5 separate regions of the Homo sapiens genome follow, and all the other regions are reported to be linked to region 1. Evidence: microRNA targets listed by miRTarBase, many of them from high-throughput screens and not tested one by one. Region 1 holds a microRNA gene; each other region holds the end of a gene's coding sequence.
The links. The annotated mature microRNA hsa-miR-4659a-3p reads UUUCUUCUUAGACAUGGCAACG and lies in region 1 at 2,648-2,669, shown strand. An mRNA with a match to its seed (bases 2 to 7 or 8) in the 3' UTR can be bound and repressed. Matches are read on the target gene's strand: a 7mer-m8 pairs with bases 2 to 8, a 7mer-A1 pairs with bases 2 to 7 and ends in A, and an 8mer does both.

Region 2: the mRNA of FAM204A is a reported target of hsa-miR-4659a-3p. Seed matches in the 3' UTR shown: 7mer-m8 at 2,076-2,082.
Region 3: the mRNA of ZG16 is a reported target of hsa-miR-4659a-3p. Seed matches in the 3' UTR shown: 7mer-A1 at 5,286-5,292 and 7mer-A1 at 5,180-5,186.
Region 4: the mRNA of TMPRSS11B is a reported target of hsa-miR-4659a-3p. Seed matches in the 3' UTR shown: 8mer at 2,735-2,742.
Region 5: the mRNA of NEGR1 is a reported target of hsa-miR-4659a-3p. Seed matches in the 3' UTR shown: 7mer-A1 at 1,996-2,002, 7mer-A1 at 1,858-1,864 and 7mer-A1 at 1,005-1,011.

Annotation. Positions count from the first base shown.
Region 1 is chr8:6,742,565-6,749,100 of GRCh38, forward strand. It overlaps MIR4659A (microRNA 4659a), which reads left to right and starts at 2,600; the gene lies at 2,600-2,680. It overlaps AGPAT5 (1-acylglycerol-3-phosphate O-acyltransferase 5), which reads left to right. Exons shown (of 8, transcript NM_018361.5): 6 at 5,106-5,264. It overlaps MIR4659B (microRNA 4659b), which reads right to left and starts at 2,676; the gene lies at 2,604-2,676. RefSeq lists enhancers at 1,891-2,170, 2,201-2,280, 3,893-3,942, 4,544-4,838, 5,761-5,910 and a silencer at 3,703-3,752.
Region 2 is chr10:118,306,468-118,313,003 of GRCh38, forward strand. FAM204A (family with sequence similarity 204 member A) reads right to left here. Exons shown (of 9, transcript NM_022063.3): 8 at 4,740-4,846; 9 at 1-4,441. The coding sequence ends at 4,390. Among named protein-coding and RNA genes, the nearest start is that of FAM204A, 33 kb to the right of the region's middle.
Region 3 is chr16:29,780,138-29,786,626 of GRCh38, reverse strand. It overlaps ZG16 (zymogen granule protein 16), which reads right to left. Exons shown (of 4, transcript NM_152338.4): 4 at 3,654-6,489. The coding sequence ends at 6,208. It overlaps LOC124903675 (a long non-coding RNA gene), which reads left to right and starts at 1,294. Exons shown (of 2, transcript XR_007065048.1): 1 at 1,294-1,670; 2 at 3,373-3,660. RefSeq lists an enhancer at 1,256-1,345 and a silencer at 2,202-2,341.
Region 4 is chr4:68,223,600-68,230,135 of GRCh38, reverse strand. It overlaps TMPRSS11B (transmembrane serine protease 11B), which reads left to right. Exons shown (of 10, transcript NM_182502.3): 8 at 620-879; 9 at 1,252-1,394; 10 at 2,064-3,483. The coding sequence ends at 2,225. Among named protein-coding and RNA genes, the nearest start is that of TMPRSS11B, 19 kb to the left of the region's middle.
Region 5 is chr1:71,402,677-71,409,212 of GRCh38, forward strand. It overlaps NEGR1 (neuronal growth regulator 1), which reads right to left. Exons shown (of 7, transcript NM_173808.3): 7 at 1-4,894. The coding sequence ends at 4,770. Among named protein-coding and RNA genes, the nearest start is that of ZRANB2-DT, 320 kb to the left of the region's middle.

The sequences.
Region 1 (6,536 bases):
TTCTGCAATAATGGTAAAGTTCTTCATCTGTTCTGTCCAGTGTGCTGGCTCCTACCAATGTGGTTTTTGAGCATTCAACATGTGACTAGTGCATGAAACTAATTTTTAATTTTATTTAATTTTAGTTTAATTAAAAATAAGGGGGAGTTTTTACAAGGTGCTTACAAGAGCAGATATGTCATAGGTATATGACATCATTTGTAACAGTACTTTTAAAAAATGCCAGTTTGTTTTTAAACACATGTCCTATTAAGTAAGGAGTGTTTCAGAATAGGAGGGTTCAGTTGGTCTCCCCATCTGCCAGCTCTCTTTTGACTTTCATTGCTTCCTCTGTCTAATAGACATGACGTTCTGTCATTTCAGTTGCTCTTTTGCAATGCCATTGTCTCTTTTGCCCTTTTCACATTTATTAAACAGAACAAAACAAAAACCACTCTCGAATCTGTAGTCTACCTTTGTTGTAAGCACTTTTTCCAGTACTCACTCTGCCCTCAATTTGTTTTGGTCTGATTTGAAATTCTCTCCCTAGACTTCTGTGGGGCTGTTCTCCATTATCCTCCCAACTCTCTGGCGATTACTTCCTAGCCTCCTTTCCAGCCTCTTTCTGCTTCATTTCTCCCTGCTACATGTGTTATTTCCAGTGTCAGGTTTTGGTGTTTGATTAATTTCACTTTTTGTTTCTCATGGTGGCCTTCCTCTAAATCCATGGCTTTAGCCATCGTTTCCTTGACTGCTGATGACTCGCAAAAGCTTCCTCCCCTCCATGTCTCTCTGCCTAACTCTGGACCCATTTGTACAATTGTCCATTAGAGAGCTTCGCTTGACTGGCCCAAAAGGATGTCTCAAACTCAGCATATTGAAGATAGAATTTATCCTTCCATGCATACACTCATATTTCTTGTCTTGGTAACTCCATCATTCAGTTTTTTTGCCTAAGTTTTATTCACAAAAAGAACAAATTGATAGCAGTTGCATACCTCTTATAGGAAACTTAGACATGGAGGAAGAAGCTGTTCAGATGGGGTCCTGCAGAAGTGCAGGCACTGTGGTAATATTTAAACTTTTCTCAGCTGTTCGAAGGGTTTTGTTTTAACTAATTTTCCTTAGACTTGTTTTAGGTATTTGGCTTTCTAATGGTTATAAGGGATGTGGAATTAAATGTATCTTAATCTGCCACCTGGACCCATTAAAGTAAGCCCCTATGGTGGTTTTTTTTTTTTAATTGCCATGGTTAAAACCATAGTTGCTAGCGAAGGTGACATACTTAAGCTTTTTGAACTCTCTTAAAAGAAAACAGAAATTTAATGATGTGTCTATAATGGCAAACCAGATACCTAGAATTTCCATGTTATTCATAGGGTGAATAACACTGGCGATTGTAGAGATTTGAGAGTTCTTTCAAAACAGGAGAACAAAGGGAATAAGCTACAAAGCAATTTTTTTCTTTGTAGACTTAACTGAATAAAAATTATTTTTATGTCTCAAACATCATATGAACAAATTTAGTTGGCAAATGGCAAGCTAATAATATTTTATAATATAGGATATTAATATACTTAATATTACAAAAGTGCTTCATAATTAGAAAAGACATAAACTAGAAAAATGGGAAAAGGGCATGAATAAGAAATTCAAGAGATACAAATGACCCACACACTTGAACAAATGTTTATTCTTTCTCATAATCAAAGAAGTAGAAATTAAATGAATACTTTGAAGCCAACTTCTGAGAAAGCATAGCAAACAAGAAAGCTAGTGCTCAGCTTTGTGTGGTAACGGCACTCTCGCTCTTAAGAAGGTGTGTTTGCTCCCTGTGGCTGCTCTCAGGCAGGGCCACAAACTTGGTGGCTTAAAACACCACAGATTTCTTCTCTTACATTTGAGAAGTCTGAAATGGGTCTTACTCAGCTGAAATCAAGGTGTTGGCAGGGCTGCAGTCCTTTGTGGAGGCTTGGGGGGATCTTGTTCTCCTGTACGGGGTCCTGTGCTTGGTTCGGGGTCCTGTGCTTGGTCTGGGATCCTGTGCTTGGTTCGAGGTCCTGTGCTGGGTCCAGTGCTCTGCTTTTACCACCTTGAAGTTCATCTGGAAATGGCACTGGCTCGCCCACACCATATAGCTGACTCTGGTTCTCCCTCCTCCTCACTCGCTCTAAACCTGTGTTTTTGGCTGATTTCTAATCTCTCTTTCCTTGGCCCTTCTGCAGCTTGCAGGGCCTTCTGCAGCTCTTGTCTGCCCCAGCCCCGGGGTCTGCCCATCCCAGTGCTGGGCTGTTCTGTTCCTGCCCTGCCTTTCCTCAGCCCTTGGCAACCCTGTTTGTTTTCTCCCTTCCTTAGCAGTGGAGAACATCGTAAGATCAATGCTGACTGCCTTCTGCAGCCAAGCCAGGCCATTTCATTTCAGCCGAGCCAAGTCTGTGTGGAGCAGTTCTTTTATTTTTCTCCTTTTGACTACCTCATGGTTTTCACGGATTTTTGTTCTCTTCACATTCAAGGATTTTTTGCTTTCAGAAAGTTATATTTCTCTGGAAAGAGTGCACCCAATATCCCTTTTGATTTCAAAATCTTAATGTGGAGTCTCTTGACTTGGATTTCTTTGGAAGAAACTGCTGAAGCTGCCATGTCTAAGAAGAAAACTTTGGAGAAAAATTTTCTTCTTAGACATGGCAACGTCAACAGTTTCTAAGCTCTTGATTCCGTCTACCCTGTCTCCATCGTTGCCTCAGTCATCTGCCTTACTTCTCTGCAGGGGTTTCTCCCAGCTTGCAAATGTACTCCAATTCTGAAATAACTAAGTCTATAGCTGTGCAAAGAGAAGTCTGGGCCCCTTGCTTTCTTGTGTTTGACTCCATCCACTCTCCAGAAATGAATCCCACTTCTCACTTAACCACTGACCTCCAAAGCATCGTATCATTTGTGTCAGTTGTCATATTTGTTAACTTTCACATAACTTTTGACATTATTTATACCTTTATAACCAGGAAATAATTTTAACTTTATTGTAGAAATAAACAATGGAGTATAATTTTTCTTGTTGAAGATAAATATCACCTCCTCTTCCTTTAAACATCTCTTCCCTTTGTTTTTGTATTACATTGGTTTCCCCCCTTTTTTTATTTCCTGGGTTGTCGTATTCCCTGTTATTATTTTTACCTTTTTTTTTTTAATGTGGATGTTTCCGGAGTCTGTATTTCTTGCCTTTTCATCTTCTGCCCTTTATTATTCTCAGCCACTGCCATTACTTCAGTTATCCATTCCCATGGTTTCCACATGCTTAGCTTCGGTTGATTCTTGCCATTTTACAGACCATATTTCCAACTACTTCTAGAATGTTTTGTTCCTTCAGCCTCAGTATGCCCAATTTGAACTCATGTTCTCTCTCCCCCTTCTTTCTTCCTTCTTTCTTTCGCTCTCTCTCCCTTCCTTCTTTTCTTTCCCTCCCTCCCTTTCTTCCTTCCCTCACTCGTTCTCTCTTGCTTGCTTGCTTTCTCTCCTCTCTCTCTTTTCTTTCTGCATTCTTCTCCCTCCCTCTCTTCCTTCTCTCCCCCACTCCCCAACTTCCAGGCTAAAGCAGTCCTCCTGAGTAGTTAGGACTACAGACATACACGTGCCACCGCGCCCGGCTCCGTGTTCTCTTTGTTTCCCTGCCTCCTGCTCTTCCACTTATCTTTGCATGGCAGGTGGGTGCACGCAGGCATGCTCTGCATGTCTTCCTCTTGGCCATTCCCCTTCTAGTTATGGTGTGGCTTTATCTACGCGTTCTGGAGCAGAAGCCTAGTCACAAAGCTATTTTTTTAAAACATTCATGATAATTCATTTCCTTTTATGTTTTAAAAATACTAGCTTTCTGTCTTTATTTCCTTACTAACTTACTTGGATGCCAGTAATTAGTTGTTTTAGTGAACACCACAGAGTGATATTTTGAAACTTTGGACTTCATAAAGTTGGATGAGCTCCAGTAGCAAAGAAGGAAGTGTTAACTAGTTTAACTGACAAATAAATGCTTCCCAGCTTGGTGTGCGATTGAGATTTTTGTTGCAAGTTTGTGAATCAATTTAACTGCCCCTGCCCTGGGGACTAAAGTCAGATACGTGCTTGTGGGAATCTTTGTCTTTCCCACACCACCCTGCATTTTAAAACCTCTTGTGTGGGACAGTCCCACCATGTAATAGCTGTTCTTCCTTACTCAGCTACTTTCCCTCCAGAGAGGCCAGTAGAAAATCTAGACTAGTTTTTTATAGTCTATTTTCATGTCACTTATTGAGAGCTACTGTTTTCTGTTAAATTGTCAGTAAATATTTTAATCAAGGAAAAGGGAGGTAATAGGAAGGAGAGAAGAACAAATCCTTAACCCTAGTAGGAACCTAATGAATGGGATTTGTTCTGGATAATTGCAGTAGTCCCCCAGCTAAAGAACCTTTTAAAAATATGTCAGATATACCCAAGAGGATTGAAATCGTATGTTCATACAAAAGCTTGTTCACCTGCAGCCTTCATATGCAATTCCTATGAATGTTCATAGCAGCATTATTCATAATAGCCAAAGTATGGATGCAACCCAAATGTCCATGAAGCAATTAATAGGTAAACAAAATGTGATCTGTTCACACAGTGGAATACTAACTATTCAGCCATAAAAAGGAATGAAGCACTGAGTCCTGCAGCCACACAGATGAACCTCAGATCCATGCTGAGCGAAAGAAGCCAGAAACAGGAGGCCATGTGCTGTGTGACTGTATTTCTAGGAAATCTTGAGTCACCATGGGCAAGATGCTATCACCTTTGTTCAGTGGCCAGAAGCGAGGGCACTAATATTTACCCTTGCCGGGGTCTACTAGATTGAAGCGTTTCCGCTAGGCCATAAACTTCCAACACGGTGACTTGTACATGTAGATATTTGATCAATATATAGCAAATGAATATTGATTTAAACAGAAAAAGGCAAGTGAGAGTGCTTTCTAAACTTAGAGCCCTAAATATATGAGGTTGTGGAATTAATAGATTCTGTTGTGTGTGTTTGAGGGAATTTAAAAATAATTTAGATGTTAAACAGTATATTGTGGAGGTGTTTTGTAACTAATTAATGACGGCACTGAATTGACTTCTAGGCCTTGCAGTATTAAAACATGTGCTAACACCACGAATAAAGGCAACTCACGTTGCTTTTGATTGCATGAAGAATTATTTAGATGCAATTTATGATGTTACGGTGGTTTATGAAGGGAAAGACGATGGAGGGCAGCGAAGAGAGTCACCGACCATGACGGGTAAGTGTGTTCACGCACCTGAAATGCCTGTACACGGTATATACAGTGCACATGTTTATGTAGAATTCAGTTTTACAAAGTAGGTTAAGTGTACTTTTTTCCTTCATTACATTTACCCGGTATATTTTTCAAGATGTTATTAAGATGTAACAGTGGAGATTTCATTAGTCCTGCAAAGTGTGGTATTTCTTGGCTGTCGTGTGAGTCCTGTGGACTCACCAATTATCATTAATCCAGCCTCTTTCTACTCAAAGTTCACACTTAAAAGGAAAGCTCTGTAAAAGGGAGGAAGACGTGAAGAAGGAGCACGCCCGGCAGTACTGAGTGCACGTTATTAGTCAGTGCTGCCCTTTTGCTGTATTTTTCGTAAAATATTTATTAAATTTGGGTGTCATTGTGACAAGAAGAAATGCAGTTAAGTGTGACCTTTTTTTTTCCCCAAACATGTTAGGTTTTAAGAACCTTTGAGCTATTGTCAGATATAACCAGAAAAAAATAGAATTTTAAGTGAGCAGGATAACTTAGTTAAACTAACCAAACATAGTGTTAGCTGTTAGAGAAATGTAAACATGGAAATAGGCAAACAGGGAAGTGTGTGGAGTTTCTGTTTCCTTTTCAAAATATCTGTTTGAGCTGGGGTTGAGAGAGAACACTAGGCTTCATGGGGTTTTTTTGTTTTTCGTTTTTTGTTTTGAGACAAGAGTTTCGCTCTGTCGCCCAGGCTGGAGTGCAGTGGCGCAATCTTGGCTCACTGCAACCTCCGCCTCCCACGTTCACACGATTCTCCTGCCTCAGCCTCCTGAGTAGCTGGAACTACATGCGTGTGCCACCATGCATGACTAATATTTGTATTTTTAGTAGATATGCGATTTCACCTTGTTGGCCAGGCTGGTCTCAAACTCCTTACCTCAGGTGATCCACGCACCTCGGCCTCCCAAATGAGCTTTGTGTTTTTACCTCATCAGCTGTTTGGGGTTGAGCCACTATGTATGTCAGTGTGCTTGTATCAGTAGGATCTACTGAGGGCAGATGTTCAAAATATGAGCCTCCAGCACGTTTTACATGGAAACCCTCACCTGAAGCATTCGTCTGAAGTTGATGTGCCTTGGAAATTTTATAGAGTAATATTTTTAACTACAACAAAACATTTATAAAAGTAGACATTATTAAAGCATTCAGAAGTGAGCAAGGATAGAAATTATTCTGCCCAACCTTACACGTAGGCCTTCTAGACGTAGTACTGTGCACCGTTACATTATCTAACACTGTCTG
Region 2 (6,536 bases), not on the chromosome of region 1:
TACTACTACTACTAATAAAAAGATATTCCTCAGCTAATTCTTGATTTACATGCACATCTAAAAACATAGCATTCTGCATGGCATTTAATAAACTATCTCCCAGAAGCCTATAGCTGTGTTCCAGGGATTAAGATCATGAAAGCCAATGTGGCAGGAAGCTACTCTGAAGCATCTCTGTATTTGAAGAAATTCCGGAAAGGGAACAGACACCTCCAGAATACTCACTATTGAGTAGGAGATAATAAAGAGACAACACACCTCATTTTAACAGTAGCACAAAATGGTTCAATGCCTTTCCAGGTTTCCTCGTGGCAATCTCCATTGGCCACATGCTGTCATGTCCTTTACTGAAGGCAAGAATCCCTTCCCAGGAAGTCTATGCTGATTACAGCAGTTAACACTAGAAAATGTGTGTAGGTATTTTTTTCTTTTAAAGCAAGCAGTGTGGAGGGAGGATGAAATAATAAAGATTAAAGAATGCAGTTCTGCACATTTTATCAAAATCTACAGAGCTCCCCAACCTCAAAAATGAAAAATGGACCTTATTGTCTCAGTATCCTACAAAGGCCAAGAATATATATTGATAAATTTATTCTAACACATATTCTACTTTCTAGCATAAAGTCACCCACTAATTTAAATTTGAAAACCTAGATACTCTGATTACCTCATAATAAAAATCACTTGAGATGCACTGCCGTGGGTTTACACAGCCTTCAACTTTTCAAAGTATTTTTCGACCCGTCACCATGCTAGAAGGCACTGATGTCACAAATACCAGTCTACATTTGGTTCTGGAAAAAGATTTTCATGTACATATTTTGTCCAAATATTACTATTTGTTTCATGAAAGTCAGAGCTAAGACTTTAGTAGAGTGTAAATTTTAAGCCAATGAATAAACAGTTGGCAGGAAAAAATATTGAACTGACATGCAAAGCATTTGTTGCTCTGCCAGATACTAAAAATAAAAGCAACTTCTGCCAAAATGGAAAACTTGGATTCAGTTGGTTCTGGATTAGACTAGGTTTCACTAACTTCAAAATGAGATCTGACATAACATCGGCTTGCCTCCTCAAACTTTATCATCTCTTAAAAAATAATGTACAACTCTCATTTTGTTTAAACAACAACCTCATACAATATGTTTTATATTTAGCAAGACACACATTTCTTAAAAAGTAATGTCTTAACAAAAATTTGGACATTTTATAAATTATATCTTCATTTTTTGTGAATTAAATTCAAACTTGTCTTATTAAAGTTATTAATAAGCTAAAAGATAATATTTTAGACAAAAGGTATAAAGAAAATCAGAAGATTTTAATGTGAGTTCTAAGTTGTGACTTAAAAGTTCAGATAACATTTTATTCCTATCCTTAGCCTGCTGCTCCCTTATCTGTCATCCTAAAAAAATAAGTGTTTAAAATATGCAGTTTGAGATTTATGATCAGTTGCAGAAACCTGTTTACGTACTGATTTACAGTCTTGGCTGAGGTATTTAACTCTGTCATCAGAACTAATTATAGCAAACCTAAGATTATATATTCAATCTCTCCTTTCGGTGAAAGACATAGAATGTTCTGCTGAAAATCAGAAACATCCTGAGGGCTCCCAAACAAGAATGCACTGCCAACTTCCCTTTCTCAGAACCAGTGCTGTAAAGCTCAAAATTACTGTTCTTTAGTAAGATGTTTTAGCCTAAAGTACTTAAATAGTAAATCATAGTTACATTAATGCCATACCAACGGCCTGAAACATATTAATCTCAGTTAACAATAACTGACGTTTACATTACTGATCTAACTCAGGCATTCTGGTGGTAGTAAATGCACATATTGAAGTTTTAGGAACCAAAGTTATTACTGATCCAAAAAGAATCCTTATTTTGCTGTGACTAGAATGGAGTGGACAAATGACTACATCCTTTGAGCAGCATGCGTACTCAAGGAATAATGTTTCTAGGAGTAAAATACCTAATTCCTATTAGAAAGGATAAAATAAAACTGCTCTCAAATGACATGTCAGCAGGGCCAATCCAAGACAACCTGTCCCCACAAATCTTCCCTCCAACCCCTTCTTCTGCTACACATAACGTTTTAGAGCTTTCCACAACCCATGCCCAGAAAGGAGTGACGACTTGGGAGAAGTGGCTTCCTTTATTAGATGAGCCCCCGCTATACTTAATTCTGCTGAAATGCCTGCCTTCCGCGTAGTTAAAATGTTCCCATCTACATGAGAACCCCGAGGGGATGCTGAGGGGGCAACTGCGGGCACTGGAGCAGGCTGAAGAAGGGCTTCCTTGGCTGGACAGGATCCCAAGTCAGACCCTACAGGAGGCCACTCTGGCAAGGCTTCAGTATGGGAAGTGCAACATGCCTGCAGGGGTCACTAAATGCTCTAAGGAGTAGAAACAGAAAAAAAAAAAAAAATGAGACTGAAGTCAAAGGGAAATGCCCATATCGGGGCCCCAAGTGTGAGAATATCTATACCACTCGCCTGCTCAAAAATAACATTTTTAGGATTTCAGACAAAACCACTGGATTGTATAGTGAATATTTCCCCCATAATGGATTTTTAGAGGAAAGGTTTCTATACTAAAAGTCTGTATTTACCTAATTTAGCAGTTTGAAATGAATATTGTAGGTAAGTTTTACATGATCATATCTGTAAAATGGAACAAGGGATATTAAATCATAAAATAAGACTTTCCAACATTTGGTCTGGATACTGAATTAGTATGACACATAATATTCTAAAACTTTGCTTTCTCTATGCTGGCTTTTCTCAACTAAATGAAAGCAAGATATGATTTTTGGATGCTTAAATAGTAGCTAGGTATTCTCTTATTCCAGAACACAGAAAAAAAAAGCCATTAAATGTGCCACCATAAATAAAATTTTGTTACTATTTTAAGTCTAAAAATAACAGTAATATAATCATGATTCATTTTACATGTTTCTGAATTTATATTATCAACCCAGAGAAAGTTTATATCAGACAGGTAGGAAACCTCTGACAACGACAGAAGAGGTGAACTGACAAAAACCATGCTGAGTGGTTCTTTACCTCCGCTGGGCACTGAGCAGGGAGGTGCCGACACACCTGGTCTTGTTCACCTGCTTGTTTTATGATTTTCTGGAGCCCCTTTCCTGTCAGAACCAGGAAATGTACATCTAATGAAAACGATTTCCCATGTTACCAATCCTCTCTTTCTGCTCATTAATTCATTCAATCTTTTAAGGAGGAATGGGGAATGGGAGGAAAACCAAACAAATCAGTTCTTAGAAGGTTCAAAGTTATATTATCTTGAGTTATAATTGTCTGTTTAATACAATTACACCATTTTCTCTTCTAAGAACCATCTCATAATTTAAAGAATGACATGGCTGAGAAAAATACTTAGGAAGACATTTTTAGGCGTTGCTGAATTTAAATCATCTTCCAAATACTACATTCTGCTCCTTTCTTTATTGTAATAGTTTATCTGAAAGTACACAAAAATTAACAAATTGCTTTTACTATGCAACTCTGAAATATCAAGTCTGCCTCCAATTAAAAAAAAACAGTAACTACTTTTATAACATTAAGGTCAAGTCATTTGTAAAGATAATATCAACTGAGACTTTTTGGTACTTACGACTAATCCATTATAAACAACTGTCAGTCTTAAAAACACAGTTCCAGTAAACGTGTAGTTACACTGGGTACAGATAAGAAAATACAAGGGCAGCATGGTAGCTCATGTCTGTACTCCCAGAACTTTGGGAGGCAGAGGCAGGTGAATCATATGAGGCCAGGAGTTCAAGACCAGCCTGACCAACACAGCAAAACTCTGTCTCTACTAAAAATACAAAAAAAAAAAAAAAATTAGCCGGGTGTGGTGGCATTTGTCCATAATCCCAGCTACTCAGGAGGCTGAGGCATGAGAATCACTTGAACCCAGGAAGCAGTGGTTGCAGTGAGCCAAGATCGTGCTACTGCACTCTAGCCTGGGTGACAGAGCAAGCGAGGCTCTGTCTCAAAAAAAAAAAAAAAAAGAAAGAAAGTACGAGAAGCTCACTGGCTGTGCTAAACCAAATGAATGGAAAGCGCCAAAAGTGATTTTATACCAAGGGTCCATCCATACAAATAAACAAAATCCTATCCTCTTCTTTCTATATTTTTTTTCTTACATTTCTTATACAAATAACAGAATGCTTCATTTTATTCACTTCAATAGGACAAAGTCCTTAAAGAAAGACTGAAAAGAGCTGATAATCAAAATCCCAAATTTTATGCTTATTTTTGTTTTAGTGCTATCAATTTTCTGACATATTAACATAGGCAGGAAAACATTCTCAGTAAATTGAGCATTTGAGTCTACAAATGTCTTGAAGCACTCTGGCAAGTTACATGTATCCCATGTTGCTTTTGGTTTCCCATCTCTTCTTTGCTTCAAACCTAAAAGGAAGAACATACAAATCTCAATTTATTTCTTAAAAAAAAAAATACTTTGCTGAACATGTTTACTTAGAGACCAAAGCAAAACAAACAAAAATTTTTCACATACTCCAATGATTACAAAATAAACATTAAACAGGATGAAGAAATGCCTCTATATTTATAATCTGATAAACATTCAACGAAGAAAAAAATGTAAAATGAGTTAACAGTTATACACGAACTAGATCACAAAATATATTAGCAGAATTTCTATGAAGTCAGGAGATTTACTACCAAAAATCTTAAGTAAACTCACCCCCATGCAAGTTTCTTCTTTTTTCGGGCAGCCTGTGAATTTTCAACCTCCTTTTTGGCTTTTACAAAGTTGTGGCAGGCAACTGCTTTGGCAATTTTTACACCAAGCTAAGAATTACAAAGGAGAAAAAAAAAGTGAAAATAAATATTCCAGCTAATACAGTAATTACACTTATACAAATAATTGAGAACTTGTGGGTAAGAAAGCCATGTCTAGAAATTAGAAATTCTATGTTCATTCCTTCTCAAAGTATAATGAATACAAAGACAGGACCCATATCTCCCGTGACTCCCAATAGACCCTTTACCCTAGTTATACCAGTCTCCTGGATGGAAATCCTTCTCAAACTGAGGCCCCTCGAGGGTCCACAAAGGTAGTAATGAGGATCTTCAAGCTATTTCAGCATTGCAGTAGGCTGAACAGGAATTTACCCCTGATAAGGCTGCAGACACTGACAGAGACATCAAGTTTCTTTGCTCTGGGCTAGAATTACAGCAACTCAGTATGGTCACACCAGTTATCTCATGCTGATCAGAAGCTCTGATTGGCAGTCACAGATGTGATTAATAAAACATGGGAAAGCTAATTACTACTTCATAAATGCACTCTGTATGATCGGTAACAGCTTTTAATTCACTGAGAGAAAAAAGAATATCAGGGGTGCTAAGGTGAAAAGGCTGAGCACCAGGACCACAGTACTTAAGTGTCCCCTGTGCAGGGCCCTCTATGTGTGCCCCCCTTACACCCACCTGCCAGTCCTACAAGATCCATTCACCGTGAAATCCCCCCATCCCAGAAGTCTTCTTTAACTCAACCTAAAACAGTCCCTGTTTCTCCAGCCCTCCAGCTTTCAGTTTTACACTCTGCCCTGCACGGCGCTCTGGCTGCAGAGCTGTTCCCCAGCAAGCATCTCCAGGATAAGCATTGTGATGGTATCTTCTACTTTTAGTGTGCTCTTAGTTTTAAAATGCCCACCAATGCGGACAGCTCAAGAGTACCCATTAAGAACCCAGATTAAACAATAAAAACGAAGTACCTCTTTGGTGTTTCTTGCCTTTTCTATCCCTTGTACTCACCTGATGCATATTAGTAGACAGGCAGACTTGTAAAAAAGAAGAAATGACCTAGAAGCCACTCTAAAGTCAACAGGTTAAAGCCTAAGTTCTAGGGATCTGCTTGCCAATAGTAAGGCATGGCAGGAGGTTAAGAGCACACGTGTAAGGAAAGAAGCAAACTTAGGAGAGCAAGGTTTGGCACGCTTGACATGTCTTTCAGCTTAATCTTGGAGAACAGTTTCCTTTAGGATGAAATCGACAAGTAGTAATCAAGCACTGTCTGTAGTTTATAAATGAGGGCAAAAATAGATTTGATTTTTCAGTACAGTTAAGAACATATATATAAAGAACGTAGACAAATGGAAGGAAGCTGACAATTGAACTACGGTGCCGAATTGGTCAACATCAACAGGAAAGGCGCCGAAGAAAGGATGATCCATTGTAAAGCAGACCAACCTCGGTGTGTTCCCAAAACTCAAACCCGTATTTAGCAGTGCTACTGTCGTCCTCCTCTTTTTCAAAGGAATAACATTCATTCAACAAATTTTACAAAGGCATAAATGCATAATTTTGCCAGGCACTGTTCTAGGTGCTGGAGGTAGAGCATTGAGTGAAACGGGTTGTTTTCAAACTGTGGGGCTGGGGAGGAGTTGGCAGTTACATTTGACTGCTTTAGTATTGGCTTTGTTCTTTTGGTTCTCTTTTCAAAATTTCCAGTTCTTTATTGTAGAAAAGTTCACGT
Region 3 (6,489 bases), not on the chromosome of region 1:
AAAGGAGGTCAGATGTAGTGGCTCATTCCTGTAATCCCAGCACTTTGGGAGGCTAAGGTGGGAGGATAGCTTGGGTCTAGGAGTCCAAGACCAGTCTGGGCAACCTAGTGAGACCCTTCTCTACAAAACATTTTAAAATTAGCCAAGTGTGGTGGCGCATGCCTGTACTCCCAGCTACTTGGGAAGTTGAGGTGGGAGGATCACTTGAGCCCAGGAGGCTAGGTTGTGGTGAGCGGAGATCATGCCGCTATTGTATTCCAGCCTGGGCAAAAGTAAAACATAGAGTTTGTGCCATAAAAGATAATTAGTGGGTCTAGGCCTGGCGCGGTGGCTCATGCCTGTAATCCCAGCACTTTGGGAGGCCGAGGCGGGCAGATCACGAGGTCAGGAGATCGAGACCATCCTGGCTAACACGGTGAAACCCCGTCTCTACTAAAAATACAACAAATTAGCCAGGCGTGGTGGCGGACGCCTGTAGTCCCAGCTACTCGGGAGGCTGAGACAGGAGAATGGCGTGAACCTGGGAGGCGGAGCTTGCAGTGATGCACTCCAGCCTGGGTGACAGAACGAGACTCCGTCTCAAAAAATAATAATAATAAAATAAAATAATAATAATAATAATTAGTGGGTGAGGCCGATGATTCTGTCCTTCAAATATGTGAAGATTAAATTAAGGTCATCTGGGACACAGCAGCAGTGATGGAGAAGAGAATGGGGGCTGGACGATAGAGGACCAGACCTGGAGGGTCTCGTGGAGAAGGGGTCCTCGAAGAGATAATGGAGCACCATGGGTGGCCAGGAAGCTATGCCAGTCTATCCCACGTGGACACCCTTTGCCTTCACTTTTATGTACTTTGATATAACAGCCGCATTGGCCGGGGCGGGGCACTACCAAAAGGCAGGACTCAGCCTGGGGTCCTGCTTCCCAGCCCCCAGGTAGCTCTCTGTAGAGGGTCCTTCCCTGCAGGCAATGAGCTCCCCGTTTGTAGCGGCTGTGCATGGGTTAATTGATGTCTTCATTGGAATGGTGAGGCTGGGTCTGCAGAAGAGGAAAGAAAAGAGTATGTTAATTAAAACTGTCAACTAAAGAAAAACTCAGGCTTTTAAAGAATTAGTTTTATTCACAAATCTTACCTAGAATGGCAACCCGTGAGCGACTTTGAGAGAGTTTCTGTTAGACTGCTCCAGCCCGTAGTTTGCGTGCGGGTGCTGGTGGGTCTGCCCTGCAGAGAGTTGCGTTAGCAACCATCCCTCCCTCCAGCGCTCGCCTCCGGGTCCCTAAGGAAAACGTTCCCCTGGTCAGGACGCTGGAGCGCGCATGGGCCTCGCAGCCATTGACGACTGGACGCGAGCTGCGGTACAAACCCCGACGCGGAGACGTTGGCGACAGTGGCCGCTGGGGGAGCTGCTGAGTGCCGCCCAGCACTGGGCTCCCTTTCCCTTCACTCTCGGCAGTTTCTTGCCTCCGTGGGTGGTTGGCGCGTCTGCGGAGCCAGAGTCGTTGTGTGGATCGTGGGACTGCAGCCCCAGCCAAAGGGCTGTCACGTCTGGTCGGTTCCGTCACCCACGGTTCCGGTTTCCAGTCGTTAAGGGTCCAGCAGTCTGTTAAGTAGCTCCCTGTCCCTTCTGGAAGCTTGGCCAGGGAAGGTCATTCCACCTTTGAGTTCCAGGTAGGTAAGGCCCTGGTTTAGACATTATGTTCCACTTGATTGAACAACAAAACAAAACAAAACACAAATCTTAGATCAGTGTTTCTCAAACGTTTAGCCTTGGGATCCCATTAGTCTTAAAAAATGAGGCCTCTAGCCTGGGCGTGGTGGCTCACGCCTGTAATCCCAGCACTTTGGGAGGCCGAGGCAGGTGCATCACGAGGTCAGGCGTTCAAGACCAGCCTGGCCAACATAGTGAAAACCCCTCTCTACTAAAAATAAAAAAATTAGCAGGGTGTGGTGGCAGGCGCCTGTATTCCCAGCTACTGGGGAGGCTGGGGCAGGAGAATCGCTTGAATCTGGGAGGTGGATGTTGCAGTGAGCCGAGATCACGCCACTGCACTCCAGCCTGGGCAACAGTGCAAGACTCCATCTCAAAAAAAAAAAAAAAAACAAAAATGAGGCCTCTAAAGATGCTCCGTATATATGGGTTTTGATCCATATTTACTGTATTCAAAATGAAACCAAATTAAAGTAACATCAGTGAACTTTCAAATTACAATAGCAAACCCACAGACATAGAAAGTACACCTGAGTGGTGGTTGCCAGGGGATGACAAGGGGTTGAGTAATTGGCACTACAGTGAACAGATGTAACTGCTTTCTTTTGGGGGTGGTGGAAGTGTTCTGGAATGAGGTAGTGGTAATGGTTGTACAATACAGTGAATATACTAAAAACCATGAAAGTGTACACTTTTAAAATGGCATTTTTTTCTTCTTATTAGAGACAAGGTCTCACTGTGTCACCCAGGTCGGAGTGCACTGGTACAATCATAGCTCATGGCAACCTCAAACTCCAAGGTTCAAGTGATCCTCCTGCCTTGGCCTCTGGAAGTGTTGGAATTACAGCTGTGAGCCATGGTGTTGGGTATCAGAAGAACCAGCCCCCAATATTTCAGCGTAGGTTCTTTCTATTTTCCCTAAGTGTTGGCCGGTCTGAGAAATAAAAAGAAAGAGTACAAAGATAGGAATTTTACAGCTGGGCTGGTGGGGGGTGACATCACATATCGGTAGGTCCATAATGCCCCACCTGAGCCGCAAAACCAGCAAGTTTTTATTAAGGATTTCAAAAGGGGAGGGGGTGTACGAACAGGGAGTAGGTCACAGAGATCACATGCTTCTGAGGCCAGTAAAGATCACAAGGCAAAGGGCAAAGCAAAGATCACAAGACAAAGGGCAAAATTAGAATTACTGATGAGGGCCTATGTTCAGCTGTGCATGTATTGTCTTGATAAACATCTTAACAGAAGACAGGGTTCGAGAGCAGAGAACCGGTCTGACCAAAATTTACCAGGTTGGAATTTCCCAATCCTAGTAAGCCTGAGGGTACTGCAGGAGACCGGGTCATATTTCAGTCCTTATCTCAACAGCATAAGACAGACACTCCCAGAGTGGCCATTTGTAAACCTCCTCCAAGGAATGCAATTCTTTTCCTAGGGTCTTAATATTTAATATTCCTTGCTAGGAAAAGAATTTAGCGATATCTCTCCTACTCGCACGTCCATTTATAGGCTCTCTGCAAGAAGAAAAATATGGCTCTTTTTGCCCGACCCCGCAGGCAGTCAGACCTTATGGTTATCTTCCCTTTTTGTTCCATTTTGTTAGGATATGACATATGTGACTCCATTTTGATACTGATAACATTCTTTTTTTTTTTTTTTTAGATGAAATCTCGCTCTGTCATCCAGGCTGGAGTGCAGTCGCACTATCTCAACTCATTGTAACCTCTGCACTTGTTCCCTAAAATCACTGTTATTCTGTTCTTTTTTAAGGTGCACTGATTTCATATTGTTCAAATGCACATTTACAATCAGATTTCATATTGTTCAAACACACATGTTTTACAATCAATTTGTTAGTTAATGCAATCATCACAGGGTCCTGAGGTGACGTACATTCTCAGCTTATGAAGATAACAGGATTGAGATTAAAATAAAGACAGGCATAAGAAATTATAAGAGTATTATTTGGGAACTGATAAATGTTCATGAAATCTTCACAATTTATGTTTAGTGATTGCAGTAAAGACAGGCATAAGAAAGTATAAAAGTATTAATTTTGGGAACTGGTAAATGTCCATGAAATCTTCACAATTTATGTTCCTCAGCTGTGGCTCCAGCCAGTCCCTCCGTTCGGGGTCCCTGACTTCCCGCAACAGTTGGGCCACCATATCTGTTTATAGAACCAATTGGATGGAGATTTGTGATAAGGGAATCCTTCCTCCTCACCACAGTGCCCCTGCCAAAGAAGAGGCTGGGGCTCTGCAGCTGCTGAAGTCACTGGATAGGCTGGGATAGATAGTCCCAATGCAAGCCAATGGCATTGATTAGGGAATCACTGATGAATCAGAGCATGATGCTGTGTTGCGTTTCAGGTGGGACTTGAACTTTTCAGGACCTGCATACACACTGAGACCTTCAAAGTGGTAACAGGGATGACAGATTTCTTGCCAGTCCCACTGCACATGAAGGCTGGTTGAGCCCTAGAAGATCCTACGGGGAACTTCAACTCCTCATTTTGCCTACAAACAGGTTGCTATGTTGCCCGGGCTGGCCTTAAACTCCTGGGCTCAAGCGACCCTCCTGGGATTACAAGTGTGCTGGGATTACAGGTGTGAGCCCCCTTGCCCAACTACCATATCCTTTTCTTGAGCCAACTGCATGGAGGTTAATGATAGAGAAGTCCTCATTCCCCACCACAGGGCCCCTGCCATAGAGGAGGCTGGGGCTCCGTGGCGGCTGCATTCACTGGGGCAGACATATTGCTAGCCCCGTATTGGCAGTGATGAGGGATCCAGCACTGTAACTGATGAGTTAAAGGACAGCATTTGGGTGCAAGAAGATGGCACTAAAACTGGTGCCTGTGTTTCCCAAGAGGCAGAGCAGCTCTTGTCTGTCACAAAGACCAGCTTCCTCAGGTAGTGTGTGAACCTGCCTGATCTGATGCCCAACATGATGGGTGATCCTTTCACCTGAACTTGGTCCACAGACTGCCTCTCCCTGCCATTGTCTGCTGATTCTCCACCCAGTCCTCCATGGTGTTATCAGGTGCAATGCTTAATTTAGGTGTCAGGTTGGTTCCATTTTGTTAGGATGTGACATATGTTACTCCATTTTGATACTGATAACATTCCTTTTTTTTTTAGATGGAGTCTCACTCTGTCATCCAGGCTGGGGTGCAGTTGTGCTGTCTCAACTCATTGTAACCTCTGCCTCCAGCATTCAAGTGATTCTCATGCCTCAGCCTCCCAAGTAGCTGGGATTACAGGTGACTGCCACCACACCTGGCTAATTTTTGTATTTTTAGTAGAGACAGGGTTTTACCATGTTGGAGGCTTGTCTCCAACTCCTGACCTCAAATGATCTGCCTGCCTTGGCCTCCCAAAGTGCTGGGATTACAGGTGTGAGCACTGTGCCCAGCCAGATATTGATAACTTTTACAAAACTAACGTATACCTTCACTCATTTTAATTTTCTTCCCTTCTTAAAATTTCTTTCCCCAACTACATAACCATCCTCTTCTATCTCTTTTGAGACCTCACCAGTGATCTCTTTTCAGAATCTCCAGCCTCTTTCTCTTTCTTCCTCTTTATCATGTGAACATGCTTGTGACTCTCCTGTCTAGGATTTTAAAAAGACACAAAACCCTTTTTCCTTACACCCCCGAAAACTGACTTGCCTATTTCTGGCAAACCACAGCCAAACTTCTTGAAACACTCGATTCTTGCTGCCTGTGTCTTCTCACCTCCCATTCATTCCTTAATGAGTTCAGCCTAGTGTCAGCCTCCCGCAGTCCACTGTAACCTTCTGATGGCTAAAGCCTAAGAGCATAGTGTGGGCAGGGTTTCCACTGCTGAGAAGGTGGTGGCTTCCTGAGGAAGGAGGAATCCCAGATCTGAGAGGGCTTAGCAGGACACCGGGGCTCATGGGTAGAGGTGAGGAGGAACTGGGCCTGGTAACAGGGCAGGGTCCTCGGGCACAGACTTCAGCTAAGTTTCAGGAGTCAGGTGGGTTCTGGGAAAGAACAAAGGCTAATGGTCCTGGCCACCCACACACAGCAAGTGAGTTCACCACTTTCTCAAGGGGAGGACCAGGGGTGAGGAGAGCTGGAGAGTGGGACATCTGGGGTTTTGGTGTAAGCCACAACTAGGCCTTGCCCTCAGACCCATGACTCCAGTTTGGATCAATGTTCCAAGGAGCTGTCCTTGAAGAGCGTTGATGCAAGCCAGAATCTCATCTCCTCTTGATAAATTATAGCACAAAGCCCAGGATTCTTACATACCTCTCCCTCATCTTCCCATCTTCCAGACAGATGTCCAAAGCCAGCCAGAAGTGAGATTTGCACGTCCCCGGCTAAGTCAGGAGGCAGATATCCCAGCCACAGATGCCCCCACACAGACTAGCCTTAACCATATTTTTTTTATTGAGCCATTTGGATGGGGGTTAGTGATAAGGGAGTTCTTACTCCTCATCACAGTGCCCCTGCCAAGGAGAGGAGGCTCAGCATCTGCTGCAGCTACTGGGGTAAACATCCCAGTGCAGGCCAATGGCATCGATGAGAGAACCAGACCGGCCACTGATGAAGCGGAGCACGGTGTTGGGGTGCAAGGGGACGGCATTGAAACTTGTGCCACTGTCTTTCCCAAAAGACAGATAGCGGCCCTTGTCTGTCACAAATACCAGCTTCTTCAGGTACCACTTGTACTTCCCAGAAACCTGGATCACTGATTCCCCAGGGTGCAGAAAGATCTCCTCCAGGTCTCCGTTGCGACCACCCACATA
Region 4 (6,536 bases), not on the chromosome of region 1:
TATACACCATGGAATACTATCCAGTCATAAAAAAGAATAAAATCATGGCCTTTGCAGGAACATGGATGCAGTTGCAGGCTATTATCCAAACTAAATGAATTAATGCTGGAACAGAAAACTAAATACCACATCTTCTTGCTTATAAGTGGGAGCTAAACACTGAGTACATATGGATACAAGGAGGGGAACAATAGACATTAGGGCCTACTTGAGGGTGGTAGAAGGGTGAGGGTAAAAAAAGTAGCTATTGAAACCAAGGGTATGTGGCAATAAGACTAATCCTGGACCCCATCCACTTACGGAATTGAGGACGCTCATGTGATTCCTGACCAAATTAAATGTTCAGAAACTGGATGGAACTGAATAAGCAGGGGAAAACATCAGTGACTCTACTTGAAAAGATCTTCAGAAAGCTGACAAATCTGAGTCCTTAGCATTATTTTTAAGTGACTGCAACATTTACAACAGCTCCATGTCAAAGATAGTTTTCAAAATAGAATTTCAGTGGTTTATAGTTTTGTTTGGGAACCTCATGCCTTAAAATTATGAGATAATCACCACTAAGAACAGTGTTGTGACCCAGCAACTGAGTGTATTCTAATTACATTGTGTCCTCTAGGAAAAATAATTCAAAAGATTGGACTGTCAACTTTGGAATTGTAGTAAATAAACCATATATGACACGGAAAGTCCAAAACATTATTTTTCATGAAAATTATAGCAGTCCTGGGCTTCATGATGATATTGCCCTTGTGCAGCTTGCTGAAGAAGTTTCTTTTACAGAGTACATTCGTAAGATTTGTCTTCCTGAAGCCAAAATGAAGCTCTCAGAAAATGACAATGTTGTAGTTACAGGTTGGGGAACACTTTATATGAATGGTAAGTTTTTTTGTAAAATCATAATAGCTGCATGGGAATAACTATTTAATCAATCAATCAATCAATCAATCAATCATCCCCTCATGCAATTAATCAATCAGTAAATATACTGAAAAGAAAACCAAGTGGTGGGACAAAAAGCATGATGTCAAATTGTCTTCACTTCCTAAAATATCTCTGGGAATGGGAATTGGAAAAATTGAAATTATGTGTTAGGCAGCCAACTATTACAAACACCTGAAAGAGACTAATCTAACCTGGGACTGGCCTGACTCTTGGTGACCAAGAGAGTCTGCTTTATGCTATAGGTAGATATTCTTTGTCCCAGCAAAGTCTAAGATCTGCATAATATGCAGCACTTATTGCTTTTAGGTTCATTTCCAGTGATACTTCAAGAAGACTTTTTGAAGATTATTGACAACAAAATTTGCAATGCCTCATATGCATACTCTGGCTTTGTGACTGATACAATGTTATGTGCTGGATTTATGTCAGGAGAAGCTGATGCATGTCAGGTATGTCTAGTTACATTATCCAGTTGTTTTCTCCCAGTTAATCAAATGGAAGTTTTTATCCACATAAAATTTTTTTTGTGTTAATAATACTGACATAGTAGCTTTGTATTTCAATACACTAAAAATGTATTAATTCCATTTATGTACCAGACACTAGCCTACATGCTAGGGACGTGGAGGTGAACACAATCCTGCCCTCACGAAGTTTTCAATCTGGGAATTCATACAAAGAATAACACTTAGAAGAAGTTTACAAGATGAATTTTGTCCTATTTTCTGGGCAACCTGCAGACCTAGAATGTTGTCTTCTCTTTATCCAGAGATGCATCAGGAGTCTGGGCACATGCCTATGCCACTTGTTCCTCAGAGGCTTCATCATAGAGACTTAAGCTCAGTGCAAGCAGCTAAGTCACCTTCTCCATATTCAAGCTGCACTCATTATATAAGTCAAACTCTGGTTTGCTCAAGTCAACATTTGGCAGTTTTAGGCCATATATTCTGGTTTGTAGCTGTCTTGTGTTTTAAAAAAAAGTCCTAAGGGTTTCAGAGTTCTAAGCCCAAAGAGAGTGAATTGGTTTCAGTGCCCAGGAGGTACAGATAACTCCACAGGAGAGGTAAAAGGAAATTTTTTGTTAAGACAAGAAACATTTTTTTCTTTTCTTCTTCTAGAATGATTCTGGTGGACCACTAGCTTACCCTGATTCCAGAAATATCTGGCATCTTGTTGGAATAGTAAGCTGGGGTGATGGATGTGGTAAAAAGAATAAGCCAGGTGTCTATACTCGAGTGACTTCTTATCGCAATTGGATTACATCCAAGACTGGACTCTGAAAAAAAAGGAATTATACAAAGGAACATAAAGACCACTGTAGGCTATCCTTATCTGTGGCTTTGGGATCTTTTTATTTTGATTGTTGGTAAACTAATCATTTTATTATATATAAAAATATAAATGTCTTTATTAATATTTTATTATATCTAAAACACTGTCCATGCATTTATTAATCTTTTAAATTAATGTAAGAGATAGGAAGAGGCCAGGTGTAGTGGCTCATGCCTGTAATCCTAGCACTTTGAGAGGCCGAGATAGGCGGATTGCTTGAGCCCAGGAGTTTGAGGGCAGCCTGGGAAACATGGCTAAATCCGTGTTCAAAAAATACAAAAATTAGCTAGGCATGGTGGCGTGCACCTATAGTCCCAGCTATTCAGGAGGCTGAGGTGGGAGGATTGCTTGAGCCCAGCAGGTTGAGGCTGTGGTGATTTGTGATTGCGCCACCACTGCACTCCAGCCTGGGCAACAGAGTGAGACCCTGTCTCAAAAAAAAAAAAAAAAAAAGGAGAGAAGAAAATAAAGAAGGCTAATATATAATTTTTCTTAATAGCTGAGTTGTGATTCATTTTACCATTATATTCAGAATTGACCTTAATTTGTTTTCCAGAATCAAAAGAAAATAAAATATAAATTTTGAAACTATGAGAACATATATAGGGGATTTATCAAATGAGTTACTTTTTATTATATCAATTATAATTTCATTTTATTAACTGGAATAAGTGCGAAAGTGTACATTACTTTTTAACTTATATGTGAAATGATTCATGTACCTCACAAAATCATGCAATCTTGCAGTGAAGAAGGAGTATCAGAGCTCCAGCTACACTGAGTCTTTCAATTTACAGATCAAGAAACTGAAGACCAGAGAAGAGAAATGATTTGGTTAAAGTCACTCTCCATCATCTGTGATAAGTTGACAAATTTATCCTTACACAAATTTGTCCTCATTGAGTTGACATCCAAAATTTGTCAGGAATTAAAGAATGACTTTTGAGTGGCAATTATTTATATAACATTTTCCATTGTCTTCATATTCACCTTTTGTCATTTGTTTGCTTTCTCTTGCAGCAAAAATAATATGAGGTCATCAAGGGCAGAGAACTGTGTGGCATCTCCTTATAGTAAAAGTGCAATCATATGGATGGCTAACTTTGTAATCTCTACAAATAATTTACCTTATGTAATTTTCCAAATGTAAAAGTCACCAAAAACTTAAAGGCATTAAAATAAACTAAAAAAGTACTCATTTCTTCATTTGTTTGTGGAGCTACTCTTTTATTCTTTATTATAAAGTATGGCTCAAATGATATGCATATTGACATCAAGCAAATCTATAACCATCTGTGACAAGATGGTGTCTTTCTCTCCTCACTTCTGTTTCAGGCCAGCCACATGTATTTATTGAGTCCCTAGTGTGTTTCAGGAAATGTCAGGTATAGATACAATGTCTTCCTTCAAGGATACCACATTTAGTGAATAAAGATAGGCAGTAAACACATAAATAAGATAATTTTGGATTACGATAAATGTTATAAAGGAAATAAAAAGTAATGTGATAGAAAATGATGGAGCAGATAAGCTATAATTTAGATTGGGAAGTCTGAATGACATCTCTGAGGGGGTAGCCATTTGAGCTGTACCTAAAGGATGAAAAGCCAAAACATGGAAAACATATGAAAGAAAAGATATCCAAAGGGAACAAGTATGAGATCCAGAGAGAGAGAGAAAAGTGAGGTGGATATGTGCAGCAGAAAGAAGGCCAATGTGATTGAAACCCCATGGATAAATGAGAGATGGTAGGGGAGAAGATGGAGGAGGTAGATGGGGGCCAAGTCAAGTACCGCTTGGTAAGCCATGGTAAAGACCTTGAATTTTCATTCTAACTGCAATGGGAGGCCCAGGAGTTTTCCAAGCAAAGGGAGTGAGATAATCTAATATGCACTTTGAAAAGATTACATAACTTTGATGAAGAGAATGGGCTGGAGTGGGGGTGAAGAGCACAGAATGCAGGCAGACTGGTTAGAAAGCTACTGCAGCTGTCCTAGTAAGAAATGAACACATATTCATCCTTTTCCTTGGGCTAGGAATATGCCTTGGTAGGATAACAGAAGACATCCTTTTATAGTGCAACCCAAAGTAGAACAAAGTTTAATATTACTAAGAGGTCAAAGGTATTGCAGGCTGTATAATGATTTCCTTGTCTTATAGATAGTTAATTCAGAAGTCAGATGTTTACAAGCATTTAATTTATCCCCGACATCATGAGTTGAATCACAGTCTGTCCCTTGCTTCTTCCAGAGGGAAAACAAATGGAACTGAATGAGTAATAACCCCAATATGGAAGAAAGAGGAAAGTGATTGGAAGGAAAGGGTGGACAGGAATTTGGAGGAGGATGGGAGATTGGTGGAGGAAGAGAATTTGTGAGACTAAGGGGTCCATGAGAAAGAAATGAAGCGTGAAGATTTCTCAAGATTGAGGCTTCCTGGTTGAACAAGGAGGGATATGATAGCATGAGTGGCCAATCTCCAGGCTTGGTGTGGAGGTAAGGAGCAGGTGGGGCAAGTTGCATAAGGTAAAGCAGTTATTATTCAGCCAAAGGTGGATTCTTTATGGGGTGCAATAGTAGCCTTTACTTCAGTCTTAACAACTTAGAATCTTCACTTTCATATGGACTGTATGTGTGACGGATCAGCTAAAAGTAAGTGTTTTTTTTTCTTTTTGGTAGTAATAGACTGCGCCATCCTGGCCTTCTGATGTTAACAGCACATTGAGAAGTTCACACAAAGAATTAGAGGTCTGCCTTGAGAAATAAAACCAACAACACTAATCACAATGCATGAAAATTAAAATGCTAAATTGACAAAAGTATCATTATTTGCATTACAAAATTAGTCACCATTTTATTAAAAAGTAAAAGATTTTCTCAAATAAAATGCTTTTACTACTCATAAGTGGTATGGAAAAGAAACCAGAGATGAATGATTAAGGAGATATTTTACGCTCCCCCCATTCCCCAGCTAAGCAGAACAAAACAAAACAAAACAAAATAAAACAAAGAACAACTTAGACTAATTTAATTATTTCTTCCTGTTTTTAAGTAGGGGAAGTTGAAGTCCATTTTGAAGGAGTCCATTGAGCAAGAATTTGAGAAAGAGCATACCATTACTGACTAGCGGGACCACAGCTATTAATAAATGTCCATATGTTCTTGAGAAACATAAAAAATTATGTGTTTGAAATATGAAACTGTTTGTGATATAAGATAGGGATATAGTCTTGTGCACTATGAAGCATAAGCCAAGATCTTTTTGTGAATGTAGTGCTAATTAAAATGGCATTTTTTTAAAGATTGAAAAAAAAATTAATGCCATATATGATAGCACAAAGTTGACAAGGTTGTTCCCTCCTTCTTGTGAAGCCTCCAATTAACCAACCAGTTTAGGCTTTAATAAGGAATTTTTGAAAGTGACTTCCTTGTTCAAGGATTGTGTCTACTCTAGAAACATCTCCAACTTATCAGTGTATGAGAACTCTTTTTTAACTCATAAGGCAGTATTTTGTTATGCAACACAGACTTTCATATTAATGCTTTCAAAGAATGTTTTCACTGAAAATGAATCAGAAAAGAAGAGACGAAGTGATGAAAAGTATCTAAAAATGTTTTTAGGTTTATTTTTAAAAATTTGGTCTTAGAGGCAGGGTGCGGTGGCTCACACCTGTAACCCCAGCACTTTGGGAGGCCAAGGCAGGCGGATCACGATGTCAGGAGAACGAGACCATCCTGGCTAACACAGTGAAAACCCCGTCTCCCCTAAAAAATACAAAAAATTAGCCAGGTGTGGTGGCGGGCGCCTGTAGTCCCAGCTACTCGGGTGGCTGAGGCAGGAGAATGGCGTGAACCCCGGAGGCGGAGCTTGCAGTGAGCCGAGATCGCGTCACTGCACTCCAGCCAGAGCGAGATTCCATCTCAAAAAAAAATAAAAAATAAAAATTTGGTCTTAGATATTGGTCTAATGGCTCAAAGCCTGCTAGAAGCTGTTTTCCATTGACTGGAATTTTTATTTTTATTTTTTGGCATACCTGAAAATATCTTCATGTTCTCCTCATTGAGCTTGTCATTTGCCATTTGTTATGACTTAAATACTGTGATCAGTCATGACATCTACACTCACTGCCCCTGCCCCTATCTCCCCATTCACTATCTAGCCCGGCAAAACCACAAACACGGTTCAGTCCAACTCTTCAACTTTTTAGTGCATGTACCATAGTTGTTGACTGTAGCTGGAGAAAAACACACATCATGCTG
Region 5 (6,536 bases), not on the chromosome of region 1:
TAACTTGAATGAATTACCTTGGAAAATTATCTCTACAAATTCTTACTTACATTTCTGACTGTCAGGTTAAAGTGAATAATTATTTTCTGTATACCAAGATATGATTTTGAAGCATCTATGTTTTGCCCTATTCTTTTGAGAGGGAAACTAGCTCTGTTTCATGTGCTGGTTTTCCATGTCTGATACTTGATGTTTCTGTTTCTGTGATGTAATTTATGCAAGATAGATAAGATAGATGTTGAAAAGGGAAGAAATAATGAAGCTGTGGGGGAAATCAGACATTTATTAGAACATTTCCAGTTTTTTTGTGGAGGGAGGGCTTTGGTGTATATAGATTTCTCAGAATAGCAATGATACTTATATTTCAAAATAGCTTATAAAACCAAGCATGAATCTTTTTTATGCTTTGTTGTTTTATCTATCACATTGTTCTCATTTATTCAGTTGACTATCATAGATGAACAGATATGGGAAAGAGGGCTTAAAAAATTCATTTGGCTTGAGATCTCATTTGTATATTATGGTTTGGTATTTACAAACTAAAGGTTCTCAGCCAAATAACGTGTTTTGCTTGGAAACCAAGGTATTTTTAAGGAAATTGTATCTGAATACCTTCAGGTGCCCGTTGTTTTATACCCAGCTGTTAAGAAATTACACTCTGCCTGGCTCTTACAAGCGTTTGAGTTTTCAGTTGTTTAGCCTGTAAGATCATCAGGATTTTATCAACAGGATATTTAGTCTCTGTTGCTAACTCTGCTGTATTTTACCAGGTAAAGGTTCTAAATAATTAATAATAAAATGTTTCCAGAAAATTTATTTTTAGTTTAGATGTAGTTCAGCTCATCAAACCTTTTAGGAATCAGCAACAGCAAGAAAGAATATAGTGTGGAGTCATTTGAAACTGTAGCATCTAGAATTTTTACCCTGTACTGCTTTAGAGTAAGCAGAAAGATGAGTGTAATACAGGAAATAAAGAGAATAGCAGAAATATCTTCAAATTATTATTTCTTCCTTCTTTCTCTTAAGCTAATAGAGTTTTAAAATGAGTCAAATACATATTTTAATTGATAAACTGAGTTTATATTCACCTATTGGAAACAGTACAACATATTTTACATCAGGTTATGAAATATGGATGTTTTACTAAAAGACAGGAAGAGCTTTTTCCAGTCTTTAAAGTAAATACATATTCAAAGAATCTTAAGGCATACCATTTATTCATATTCATATCTATTGAAATACTGTACATCCACATACTTCAATAAATAGTTAAAAACCTGACCTCTTTTTAAATCATTTCTGGATTTCAAAAAACAATTTTTATTGAAAAGATTAAATAGGTAACTTTTGGCTGTGTCACAAAGCTAAGCACAATGGATAAATTAACAATTGTTCAGTAAATTTGATCATTATAGATGATTGACTTTGATAATTCAGTTTTTCAGAGTTTTCTGACTTCAAATGTAGGGGTATTTATATATATATATATTTTTTTTTTTCCCTGAATTACCTGGGTAATTTTCTCAGTTCTCCAGTCTACTTTCTAGATATAGCTTAAATGTTATGATGAAGCATTAATTTTTCAGTTAAGTTATAAACCCCCCAAAAGTGGCTTTAAGTTTGAAATTCTCCCTCTCAAATCTTTTAGTGTCTCAAAAACACCCACATTACTATAACTTGGGCAGTACTTTTTATTATATAATTGCTGCATAATAGGAACTTAATGGTATAATAGGACTTATGTTTCAAATGCGATCATTGAAAAACGTAGTTACACCACTTGCAGTTAAACTAAGAATGCAAATGTGTAAGTTAACTACCCTAATACTCTGATTCTTCCTTCCCTCTCATCCTTTCTTTCTTCCTACCTTCTCCCCTTCCTCCCTTCCTTCCTTCATTCCTTCCATCCTTCCTTTTTTTCCCTCTTTACTGCCTTTCCTTTTCATTCTTTTTCTTTTCTCTCCATTCTCATTTTTAAACTGCTACTTATTTTTCTTTCTTCCTTCTTTAAAAAAAAATAGGGGCAACAAAAGGAGTCCCACAAGTGGAACTTGTAGAAAATATAATCCTGAAATGAACAGCTAACACAAATTGTTATAGATTAAAAGATAAATCAATTTATAAAACTGCTATTCTGAAATTGCAACAATCTTGTACAGTCAGGACTGATAAAATGGGGTAATCAGACATTTTATATGTCCATAAATGTAAAATCATCTACTTGAACATTATATGCAATACATTCACACAAAAAAGCAAATACTGTAGCCTTATTTGACAATATTGAACTCATAAATACTCATGATTTCACTCTGTCCGAGGGCCTAAGGACTAGGAATGCTGCTGTGATACAGAAAAACATAGTGAATACCTCCTCTATTTAAAAATGTCACTCAAGAAAGTCTCTTCTAACATAAAGGCAAATACATATAGCTACTGAGCTATGACTGTACTTCTGTCACATTCTATGGTAAAAACACCAGACTCCACAAATTTGGAATCATGACAACACTTTGAACTAATTATTTGGTTCATCCATAGTTTATACCTCAATTTACCTACAAACCTTACAAAGAGGAGGTATTTTAACTCTAGGAAAGCGGTCACTGAATAATATGCATTCTTGATCTGTTTCTTTCTCCCAAACAATGGTACTGATGGTTAACATTTTTTGTGGTAGCACCACTATTTCTAGTAAGTAGATTATTATGGAGTGTGCCACTTTAAAGCTGCAATACAAAATAATATTTTATAGTTTATTCAACAATTCCACAAAGAATATTTCTTAAAAGCAAATAAATAATAAAGTTAAATGCCATATTTGTTCTAAAAACTCTTTTTTAATGTATCAATCAAAATAATGTCATACATTTATTACAGTTAGTAGATTTACTAGCTTTATGCCTTATTATTGCCATTTTGTGGAAAGAGTATACTTATGTCCCCTCATTTAAGATTCATTTTTCTAATTAAAATTGATTTATGATGTACTTTGGGACTAAGTTTTACTTGAAGAAAAAAAATCACAGTTTTTAAGCCATCCCTGCTAGGGCAACATACTAGATATCTCAAATATGTATAACCACTGCAAAATTTCTTGTATCTAATTTTATTATAGGGTCTTTGTTGTTACAACTTGTAAAAGGGGACTATTTGTAGAAATTTAGGTGTACTGAAATTGGTAACTTCATCAAACCTGTAAAATGGCTTTCAAGGTGATGGCCTTTCTTTAGTAAAGAGTGAAACCATCAAACTATTCCTGTAAATTAATGTTAGAGTAACAGCATTTTCCTTCAAAAATGTAGTTTTGCTTCTTTATAGTAGAAATAATTTAACATTCACAATAATTTGATAATTACTTATCTTAAGATATTCTCATCACTGGTGTTTTGTCTTTATTTGATCGCATCTTACATATATCATGTAAGGAAAAATAAAGGATGGTCTTTTTTGATTTTACTTGTTTGCACTGAAATGGCTATATAGAAAGATTTTATTGAAGAATTAGCTATTTTAGAGATTGGTCTGCTACATACCGATATAGAATGTTTGTTATAATATATTTTGGAAGTTTTAAAATATATAACATGCATTCCAGACTATCAACTGAGTGATACTTTCAGATGGAAAATATGCAAAATGCTCCTGTCCACAGGAGCACTGCCTCTGTCATACTAACTTAGCTGCCACAAAATAAAATTAATGATGAGCGCTTACCAACTCTTGTAATATTAGGTGATAGGACTTTGTGCCCTTTCTGACAAATCATCTTAAAATTTTTGGCTTGGACTAGTGAAAGGAAAAGATGCTGTATTGCTAGGCAATCCTTTGAGTGGACTGTGCTGTCATTTTAAAGGGAATGATTTCCCACGGTGGATCTAACATTTAGCTACAACTAAAGAAATCATATGGTATATTTACTATACTGTTATTAAATTGTCTCTCATCACAAGAACTGAGTTAGTGTGGGGCAAAATTCTCAAACCCCATTGTCAGTGCAGGAAGAGATTTTTACAGTCCAATAGCTCCTTCGTTACTTAGAGATAGTGTATGGTTTAACTTGATCACTCTGGTTTATTTTTACTTTCAAATTGTAAGATTTAGCAAAACATTTTATATTAGTTGGAGACAAAGAGAAAAATATTATTGTATGAAGGCACACCCATGCTGAACTTACAGGAAAGAGAAGCAGAGCTGCACAGCCAGTTATATTACAAGGCTCATTCCTGAAACCTGAATATCATGCGAGCAGAAAAATCTAGATATGTGTTATATTTTGAAGAAATAATCTGAAGGCAATATTATTTGCTTTTTTATCAAAAAAGAAAAAAATGCATCTTTGTAAATGTGGATTGACTCTTATTGAAACAGGGAACTGAATGCTTGTATTGCAGCCTTAAAGAATCACATATTCACTGCAATATTCGTTTTTGTAAACTACAGCCTGCAACCTAGCAGACCATGACTGAATGCTTTTGAAAAGTTGTAGATTACAAACATGAAATCACAATTAATATCCTCTAAAAGTAATTTCAGAGCTTTCACGTCTTAAAAAAAGGACAATGTGTACTGCTTCACAAGGTAATGTAGCTAATCAAAAAAGAGTAGAATTAAAGTATTTACATAATGAGCAATTCTACAGAAGGCGATCATCCCCATGTAAGCACTGCTGATTATATCCCACGCTGCTTTTAACAAACTGTACCAGATTGGATCCAGCCATCAGCACTTTCAGAGAATCCTTAAAAGCCTTTTATGGGTCTTTGAATTTATTGTAGAATGGCATTCTTCAGGTAGAATATGCTGGTGAAAGAGGACAGTGTCAACACAAGGTACCAGCAGGAGAAAAGAACATCAGCGCTCCCGGTAATTCCATACTGGGCTGTACTTGGAGCTGGAAAGAAATGGAAAAGATTAAATCAAAATCTAATTTGTGTCTTCCAGGATCTTGACAATAATCAAAAGGTAGCCAGGTGCATCGGGGAAAGCACTGACATTGGAGTCAGACAGACTGAAGTTCATATCTGATTCTGCTATATGACAACGTGTGGGCTATGTGGCTAACTTCTCAGAGCTTCAGTTTTCTCAAGGGCAAAATGAAAATAATAGAAATAATAGAATCCACCTCACAGGGCTGTGGTGAGAATTGGAGATGAAGCACATACAGCATATTACATCAACTAAACACATGCTAAGTACTCAACAGCTACTAACATTATTATTCCTCTTATATGTACTGTAAATATTTGTATTAATGGACAAATAGTCATTCATGTGTATATATAGCTGTGTTTTATTAGCTAAATACTGTACTAAATGCTAGGAAAACAAGAATATTGTCCCTTCCAAGGCCTTTTTTTGGTGAGAAAAGATCTTCAAACAATTATAATACAGAATATTAGAGTTGCATGTGCATACCCAGTAACACAGACAAATTGTGCTTTTAAATTGCCTGGGTAAGGGAGATTTCAAATACAGTTTTACTAAAGGAGACTATCATGTGGGTAGAAGAAATAACATATTCGAAGGCATAATAAAAGGACAGAGCAAGGTGTGTCGTATAGAATATAAAGGTAGATTTAGTCTTGCTGGACCATGAAGTTTGAGGCCCGAAGTGGAGGGAATTGAAACTAGACCTCTAGACAGGTAGAATGACCTCTACTGTAATGAAAAAGGGACTAGGTTTTTATATTGAAAGACATTTTGAAGAATTTGGAGAGTTGAATGTATGACTACATTTATACATCAGAAATATTACAGTCTTATATATGGGGAAGTTCACATGGTACTTGGCTAACAGTCATGTTGAATTTTCACTGAATACCTGAAAATTCACCAAGTTTGGGATATTATTGGAGTGTTTGGAATGGGTTTCACTTTGTTTATGAACAGACAGTTGCCTAGTTGTAGTGAATTATATTGTGTTCCAGAAATTAAATGTTACAGCCGTGCTTGGACTTGTTTGAGACTGATTCTCATTTACCATAATAATAATAATAATTGTAATAACAAAAAACCTGCCAATATATTTTAACCACCTTTTCTTAATGAAACCTGGATTTCAAGCACTATTTCCTAGTAGAAATTGAATAATGTAGTAAAGAAATCGACTACTTCATTTCTAAATTTATAACTCAAATCCAGGAGCAGGTTTAGTCACACTGAGTCTGAATTGCCAGCAGATAGTTTTAATGAAATGTTCACAAATGACTATATTGCTACGTAACAAGAATAATAAATTCTGCTGTTTACACTTCCAAGAAATTAAAGGGGATGAAAGATACATTGGTCCCTGCAGTGGGAAGTTTCCTTGACAATGCAATTATTGATTCCAGGTGAGTGGGATTTGAACACTGAGACTACTATTTTTTAATAAACAAAGAGCAAAATTAACTATTTAATGCATGTGTATAATTACAAATGAGTTTTTTAAAAAATAAAAAGACAAAGAAAGTAAGTCTATTGTTGAACAGAGAGCTTTTCAATTTCTGATGTATATGAAGTCTAATTTAAAGCTATGGAACTCCTCATTGTCC